Homo sapiens: one gene and its partner. The protein of the gene in region 1 purifies or fractionates together with the protein of each later gene. This does not show direct contact. Each region holds a gene or a part of one and is shown on either strand. Other genes may lie near its edges.

The links. Proteins that work in one complex are often made in the same cells at the same time.
Region 2: the proteins of CCDC50 (region 1) and AIM2 purify together in Homo sapiens (affinity purification with western blotting; one study listed by BioGRID). This does not show direct contact.

The regions. Positions count from the first base shown.
Region 1 is NC_000003.12:191,373,550-191,379,128, forward strand, and holds part of CCDC50 (coiled-coil domain-containing protein 50 long isoform), read left to right. Parts: intron 1-1,512; coding exon 1,513-2,040; intron 2,041-5,579.
Region 2 is NC_000001.11:159,070,267-159,073,766, forward strand, and holds part of AIM2 (interferon-inducible protein AIM2), read right to left. Parts: intron 3,254-3,500; 5' UTR 3,234-3,253; coding exon 2,972-3,233; intron 1-2,971. UniProt on the Homo sapiens protein: Sensor component of the AIM2 inflammasome, which mediates inflammasome activation in response to the presence of double-stranded DNA (dsDNA) in the cytosol, leading to subsequent pyroptosis.

The sequences.
Region 1 (5,579 bases):
GATGTGGTCATCATTTAAGTGGCTGGTCTGTATTATATAAATTTACAGCAGTAGTCACTTGATTCTCATGTTGTCACGATAGTCTTAAAATAATAGTTTATTTAAAAGAGCAGATAATTTGTTTTTATCACCGGGTAATTCTTCTGTTTTGCTTTTGATTTTATGTAAAATAAAACTTACCCATAAATGATGAAGATAAATACTTCTACAGACTGTTTAGAAAACAAATTTTAATTTAGTATTGTCTTGGGAAGCAAGCTTTCTTTTCTTCTGGAAAGCACAAGAGGAAACAATTTGAGGTTTTTAATGGAAACTTACATAATTGGTACATTTAGCACATACCTCTTTCTTGCTCTGTTCCTTTAACAGATTAATATCAAATGAAACAGTTTAAAGGAAAACGTATAGTTTTTTATTTTCTTTACATCTCATCAACTTACGGTAGCTCTTTCAAATGCAGTTCAGCAAGTGGTTAATTCCATCGGGGAATCTTAGCTTTCATAGCAATTTTCCATGGAATTGGGATTTTTCGTTGTTATTTCCAAAACGTAGTAAAAGTTTTAGAAAATGTTAAAATCAGTATATTCTTATAAAGTGCATATGCATTTGCTGCCTTTGTCTTCACATTATACTTGTGCCTAAAAAAGACCTGAAAAAGAATTATTTTTGTGCTGTTTTTGAAGTTTATATTAAATTTGGGGACATATACTTAGCATATATTATATTTTTCTACAAAGAATACAATATCATACAGTTTTTTGAAATGTATTTAGGAAGCGACTCCTTTTTATATATTCCATCAAGGCAACCCTTTAAATTTTTTTCCTTTGCCAAGTTTCAACTAAGATTGAGAACAGAATTATCTACAGATAACAGGGTCATGAACTCAAAATTCTCATCTACTTGATCCTCTTTTATATTGAACTGTAATAGAGGGCTAATTTCTGAAGTGACTGGGTATGTTTGCTTTGGCCACATAAAGTGGGCAGATGGAGGCATATAAAAATCTGTGGATCATTCCTCTGAACTCAAGAGAAACTAGCAATATTCTGATAGTTTTATTGGCATTTCCAGTAAGAATATTTGAAAGCCTCTGTCTGAAATTACAAAGCTTAATTTTTTTGTTTTACAAGATTCCTCAACCTCTACTTTTTACTCTATACTAGTTTCAAATTGGTTTATAAATAGAACTTAATGTTTAATGGCTATAATTTTGTTATTGGCAAATATTAAAGTGTTGTTAGCTCTACCTAATCGTGATCAAGCTCTTCTTTCACATTTGTTTCACTTTAGTTTCTTACCATTTTGGCTATGTACCCAGAATTCTTTAGGTATGCATGAACTGTTTCAGTAATGCTCATCCCCTCTTCTCAATTTAAGTTGAAAAAGCAATTTTCTCCATTTTTAAAGTACGTTAAACTGGAGCCCAGACTCCCCCCTGTGTAGTGAGTTCATAACTCTCATTAAATTAATCTGCATTTTTATTTTTCACATCCCTCTGCCTCCACTCAGACCAACCAGGGTCAAGGAGGGCCAGGGAATTGGGTTCTGGATTCTCAAGACCTTGTAGACTCCAAAGAGATGGAAAGACTGTGAAGCACAAGAAAGAGAAACCAGAACATCCACTGGAGAACTTGGAAGAGCCAGAACAACATTGTTCATCGAAGAGATCCCTGTCATCCTCTAGCTCGGGCAAAGGGAGGGACAATCCCCATATTAACAATGAGCAGCATGAAAGGAAACGGTCCACTCAGGAGAGGCCTCGGAGACCTCTGCTTCCCACGATCAGTGGTGAAGTGTTTCTGAGCACTGAATGTGATGACTGGGAGACTAAGATTAACCATCAGACTCGAAATTGGGAAAAACAGTCTCGACACCAAGATCGACTTTCACCCAAGTCCTCACAAAAAGCAGGGCTTCACTGCAAGGAAGTTGTATATGGGAGGGACCATGGGCAAGGTGAGCACAGAAAAAGGAGACACAGGCCCAGGACTCCTCCATTCTCAGAGAGTGAGGAGCAGCTCCACCTCCATGACGCAGGTAATAGAGGACAGTCTCGATGGAAGTCCTGGTATCATGTATATAACTACAAACCAATGAATTTAATAAGTACCTTAAGCAACCTTTCTTTCTCTCTAGTTCATGCTCATGACTTTGAAATAAATCCTAGAGCAACATATTATAAAAGGTATACACTTAATCTCAGGTCTGTAAGAAGAAGGAAAATATTTGTAACTTTTCCCTTCTGTGAGAATGCACTGATTTCTTGGAGAGTTATTCCATGCCCAGGTTGTATTAGAGGTACCCATTCCAGATATAGTTCTTCATTTACCGAGACTGTGTATCAGAGATTCTGATACCAAATCAAAACTCCTGAATTTCTGGTTTTACTTCAGTGAACCCAGAAGAGCTGATGAGCCTGTCTTGATAGTGTTTGTCTAACTAAAAGGCCGATAGAGCCGGAAATACTGTATTTTTTAGACCTCATCTTTCTCATTTGTAAAATGAGGAGTTGGATAGGCAGTCTTTTAAGAAAGTATTTTTCAAATAATATGCCTCAGTTCATTTTCATCAGAATCAGCTGTTAACTAACAATGGAAATGTCTGGGTTTCACATGTATTATCATCTCTGGAGTGAGGCCTGGCAGTTTGGACATGTTTTAGACCTGGAGGTGGATTCTTAGGAACTTAAAAGTTTAAAGTCATTGCATTAAGTTACTTTTTATGCTGTAACTTTCTCCAGCTCTAACTCTACAGTTGGTGTTCTAAAGTACCAATACAGGTAAGTTCTTGGTACCTATATAAGAATGAGGTAAATATTATAGATAAACCTCAAATTTCTGGCACCCCTGAGGCTTAACTCTGAAGTCCATCATTGACGCAGTAATGGCTCTATTTTCTATAAACTGCTGAGGTGATGTTTTCCATGTGTCTGTAACACTAGGAATCATAGTACCAAGGAGCCAGTCAAGCTCTATCTGTGGTCAGAGAACTTGTTTCTAGGTTGCGGATTCAGGTTAAGTTGGTTTTTCCTGTCATGTTATTTCTTATTGAAGGACTTGGTTATGCAGAAAATTAAAATTTAGTTCCAGAAGCCATTCTGAGTAGCTGCCACAAATATCCTTGTCTTAGGCTTTGTGCTTGGATTTCAGCCAGAAAGATGGCTTTGTAAACAATTCCAAACTAGATCCACTTTGTTAGGAAGACATAAAGAGCTGCGGAAAAATAGAGGAAAGTGTGATATAATCTGTCTTGAGTAGGTTTATGAGGAGGTTACACCCCTAGCATTTTGAGGTTTACAAGTTCCAAAGGTGTGGGGGAAGTATGGAGGAAGAATGATGTACACTGACCTCTACGTTTCTGCTTCTGTGAATCTGACTTTCACGAGTGCTCTGAGGGCTAGTTAGGCTTTATGGCTTTTAGTTATGCTCCAGGATATTTTAAATAGGCTGAGGAAGCATGACACTAAACGCTGACTCACAGGCTCCACTACTGGAATTGCAAATGTTTTGTTTTTTATTTTGCCAGCACAAGGGATTGAAAAACAATGTTACCAGGCGGATATTAAAACGACTACAACATGAGCTGCTGCTTTTCTATCATTTTATATTCAGCTTGCTTTTTATATTTTACCTTTCTAGCCCCCGTAGGCATTTGATTTTGTAACTCCCTGGAACAGGTCAGAGGATTACATTAAAATATAATTACTAGGTAGTGGCATCTATTCTTGCTGTTGTAAAAGCACAATTCTTAAAGTTGTTAGGACAGGCCAAACTTACATTAATAATGAAGAAACTAGCAGGATGACACGGAGCTGGTTCTAAGAGCATTTGCAGAGCAGCATTAATAGAATCAGTTGAAAGGGACTGCAAAATAAAATTTTAAATTAAGTATAAGATAACTTTCTACAGGGCAATGGGTACTTAACCTTTCGGAGTTACTTCTCTATTGGACTATAAATTCTTAATGGCTCATCATTTTCTGCAGGTTAACTTCTAAACTCACAGGGCCATAAAATATCTGCACTGTTCTGCTGTGAATTGTTAGTCAGATATACTGTGGCATTCCCTAAATGTCAGACTGGCTTATTACAAATACTCTTACATGATATCAAAAAGAATCTATCATTTTACCTTATTCCAAGCTCAGAATAAATTTATCTTGACTGTCAGTACTTTCAACAATTTTATTCTGTAAATTTATTTAAGGCTGAAGTTTTGTGTTCATTTAAGGATGTTCTTGTGTTCTCCATCTGAAGGATGATGAACAGAAAAAGACAAGGAAATGTGAAATTAAGATATATATGGAACTTGAAAATACCACTCACCTGATTTTTTGAAAGCTAGTTTCTAGAGTCTGTTTAGGATACTGAGATGAGGGAAGCTAGTCTGTTAATTTCCTTCAGTTAATTACATTTAAAAAATTTTTGGACATCTTTGTTTAATGACGGCCTTACACTGCACTGTGAGTTCTTTTTCTATATCCTTACAAAAATTTTTGTCACCTTGGGTCCAGAGGACACTGCAGAGAATGGGCATCCTGACAGTGCAGAAATTTAGTATTCCAGGCTGTGGAGATTTTCTACTTAATGAGATTTACAGATTCCAGTGATACATCAAGGGTTTAAATAAACCATTTCCCCTCTAAATATTTGGAACTGAGAGATATTACCTCAGATTCTGACTCTTACTAAGTCATCATTCTCTTTTTAACTGCCAGAGGTTACAGTCTTATCACCCTGTCAAAACAATTAGACTATTCAATGGAATATTGTCTTTGGTAGAATTTAAAACAATGTGTCTTTAATAAAACTGAAAGTGAAAAATCTTCTTGGCTAATTCTGTGGTGTACTTTAGGAGGCATAATAGTGGAGAAAATTTGGTCTCTTGAAATTTGAGCACATCCCACTGTATTATTTCACTGTATGGCAAAAGTGAAGGAGGTAGGCATGTTCTGTCATCCTTAATTAAGCTTTGGGCTGCTTATTGAAGTATCATTTTTTCTATAGATTGGAACATGGTTTATATAGCAGACTATCTTGTCCACTGACATTGCCCAGTACTGAGTTCCTTATCTAATTTCATTTTCTCTGAAATCTGCCTTCCTAGTTCTGACTAAGCTAAATAACTCAGGGAGATTTATATTCTATTTCAGATGGTCCACTCTTGGGACTATGCCACTGTTTTTTTGTTTGTTTGTTTGTTTGTTTTTGCTGTCCCAAACCACTTAGAAATCTAGATTAAGCCCAGCCCAGCATAAGACTCCGTGGCTCTAGAGTTGATTTGAAGTGATCTGTGCAATCAGGTTCTATTAGGTCTGAAGCTAAGAAAGCCATGTTTACTAGTCTGTCTTTGTAGGAAATACAGATGTGTATGAGTCTGTGGCTTCTGAAGCCGCAGAAGCCAGGTTGAAAGTTGTACAAAGGTGGGCTTCACAAAATACTTACATTCTCATCATTTGCCCAGTGTTTACTTGTATTTTATTTTTTTAAAGATTAACAGCAAGTGAGTCAAGTGTGGTGAGGGATTTTGACAAAAATCATTTTAATTTACAGTAATTTTAATGGACATAATACACTA
Region 2 (3,500 bases), on another chromosome or scaffold:
AAACCTTGTTTTATCATAAGAACCTAAAAGCTTTCCTTGTACCTATTAGCAATTCAATGGATATTTACTGAATGGATGAAGAAATGGATGGATGGGTGGCATGTTGGCTCCTCACTAATGCCTACAAAATGCAGTCGTATACTCTGGCTGGGCTCCTCCACGTCTATGGTCAGGTTATATGTTATCGTGAAAAGCCAACTCCTACTCCTGATTTTTAAAAAGACCATGTAACAAGATGGCCATGTTTGATGACTTAAGGCACTCTCAGGCAGAAGAGGGCCTGGGAAATTATTAGATGTTATTTCTGATAGAATTTGAACAATTCTGGACTGAAATAGCAAGGCAATCACTGATTTTACTAAAAAGAGAAACGATTTAATTATTAGAGCTAAGAGTAGAATGAACTGTCTTATGAGGTAGTAGGTACTCTGTCATTACCTTTCAAAGATCAGAAAGTGGTTGACTGTCTGACAGGGATATTGTAGCAGGATCTCTGCACTAGGAAGAAGTTAAACTAACCTTCCAATGGTAAGTTAGTTCCATGAAATTGGTTTCAGAAAGGTATGCAGATAAAGTCTCTCTTCTATGTTCACAGCATCGGAGAGAAAACAGCATCAAGGGAGGCGGAAGGAATCAACCTACCATTCTACCACATCACATCAGCCATATTTCATTTCACACACTGTGGTACCAATGCAATATTTGTGGACAAGCTTGTCTGCCAATTATAAATCTCTCATTTGCCTTAATAATCAGGTGCACATTGTTACTGATTATTTCATTTATCATTTTCAGCATTTTATTTTAATCTTGCAGGACTTTTGTGGACTTTGATCACATTTTCTCTTAGCTTCCTTTTTCTACGCTTATGTGTCCTTATATTTTCTCATCTTGCTTCATACAAAAGCTTCTCCTGTCTACTAATTATTGCCTCTGTCTTCATTAAAGATTCTCCAGGTATCTTCTACCTTCCATGAGGTGAGGTCATGAGTAGAATAGCATATAGCACTCTACATGCAGACATGCAATGGCAATGGAGAAGGATCACTTAACCAAGAATGACAGATTAACTGTTCAAAAAATAAAACAAAAACTGTTTTCCTAAAATAATAGAAATAGCATGGACACACAAAAATTTCCTACATTCAAAAGCGGCCTAAGTATGTCCGTGGATAGAATTTTAGAGCTATGAAGGAACTTAACTGCCTTCTTGTATAGCATGCAAGAAGCATACTTTGTGTTTTGTTGTTGTTGTTGTTTGAGACAGGGTCTCACTGTTGTTGCCCAGGCAGGAGTGCAGAGGTGTGATCTCAGCTCACTGCAACCTCTCCCTCCCAGGTTCAAGTGATTCTCGTGCCTCAGCCTCCCAAGTAGCTGGCATTACAGATGCCCGCCACCATGCCTGGCTAATTTTTGTATTTTTAGTAGAGACAAAGTTTCACTATGTTGGCCAGGCTGATCTCGAACTCCTGAACTCAAGTGATCCACCCGCCTTGGCCTCCCAAAGTGCTGGGATTAAAGGCGTGAGCCACTGCGCCTGGCCCAAAAGCATACTTTGAATCCTACAACTGTTACATTTGGAGACTCTCATTTGGGAGAGTCCTTGGATAATCTACTCCTGAGTTTCCAAGCTAGTCCCAAACTGGATCTTTTTTAGCTAAGCAGAATAACAAAATCCCAGAATCATTAGAATAGCAAAATGGGGAGAAGATTGTAGAAGGGGAAATTTTGTTCTATCCTGGTCAAAGAGAAGAATTAATTCTTGATTTATTACCAAAATAAAAGATATTTCTAAATATCTCAGCCTATGTTTGCCAATATGCCTAGATTCCTGGCTCATCCCAGATAAGAAAAACACAGGGCAATGTTTTGGTTGGTTACTTGGAAGTAACATGTGTAGTTACTGCCATCTAAGGGCCATCTCTAAGAACTACACCTTCTAACTTAAAGCCTGGGAAAACCACCACTCCTTTCTCTTTAGTGCCTTAGAAACTACCTAACAGTTTATATCTGTATAGAATTATGAATGTACATAGTATCACTTATGTGGCTTCATTTAGCCTTCCTATAACTCATGTGTGAGAAGCCATGTCACCCTTGTTGTACACCCACAAATGCTACTAAAAGCTATTATAATTTTTGCTGCTACTGTTGTACTTTGAATCCTAAAACTGTTGCATTTGGAGACTTTCATTTTGGAGAGTCCTTGAGTGATATGCTCCTCTGTTAGCTCCTTTTTGTTCTTCAGACATAAAGCTGGGACATATCAATTGTTCTTAGTAAACAAAATCAGGAATTTAAACTAAATGTAGATAATTCAGATGGAGATGAGTGATTTATTGAATAATGTAAAAAAAATCTTTGTGTTGTGGGTAATTTATACTGTCACCTGTACTGGAGATAGAGAGGAAAGAAAATCCCTGAAGGTGGATTCTCCCTCCCTTCTGAAGAAGGAGGAGATCATCGCCTAAAGAAGGATAGTCTGGGACCACAGAAAGCTGGGGACAAGGAGAGGAATAGACAGACTGTGTGAAGGAAAAAAGGTGCTCAATATCCTGGTTTACAGTTTTCCAATGCAATAATTTATACTTTCAAGACTTCAGTAGAATGTGACAGCATTACATACTGTGTAAATGGAGTTGGGAGAAGTTAACTTTGAAATTCTACGTCCATATTCACTGCAACTGAACTGGAGACAAAGATGGGCAAGGAGAAAAGATGTTAAATGGAAGTGGTAACCCTAAGGCTGGAAGAAGAGATGCAAACAAAGGCTGGAATGGATTTGTGGAATTTGTAACAAACACTTCCTAGAAGCGATTCTCAGTAAAAGGGGGCAAAGAGACAGGTGCACTAAGTTAGCAAACAAATTCCAACAATGTGCACTGGGGGTCATATCCCAGGGATGCCATGAAAGGAAAGGCCCAGGCTTGGCAGAAAAAGGGACGGGGCAGGTGTGGAACTCCCACATTACCTTTCTCCTTCTCCTCCTGAAGACGTTTTGCCAAAAGCATATAATTCAACTTCTGAAAAATACGAATGGTCTTCATCACTGCAGACACCGCCCCAGCATTTTGAATCATCAAGGTAGCTACTTGTATTCTGTTTGCAGTATGTAGTTTGCCTGTGGCAATATTAAACTCGTCTGAAAGAAAGAACTTAAACCTATCCAGTTCCTCATCAGTGATGTTATCCAGGCCTGTTAGCAAGAGTATCTCCTTGTATTTACTCTCCATCTGACAACTTTGGGATCAGCCTATAAGGAATCCAAAACATGTAAGATTACACCACCAAAAGTGATTCTACATTCAAAATAAAGCAAGGTGAGCTATTAATATTTTTTAAAGAAAAATAAAATATTTGCAGTAGTAAAAGAGATTTGAGTAGGACATAGGTAAGAACTTCTTAAGCAAGGTGATCACTACTCCTGGGAAAGACATCTTCAGAAAGTATACAACACCTCTGGAATTCTCAGAAAACAAGATACATTAGCTGGGCGCGGT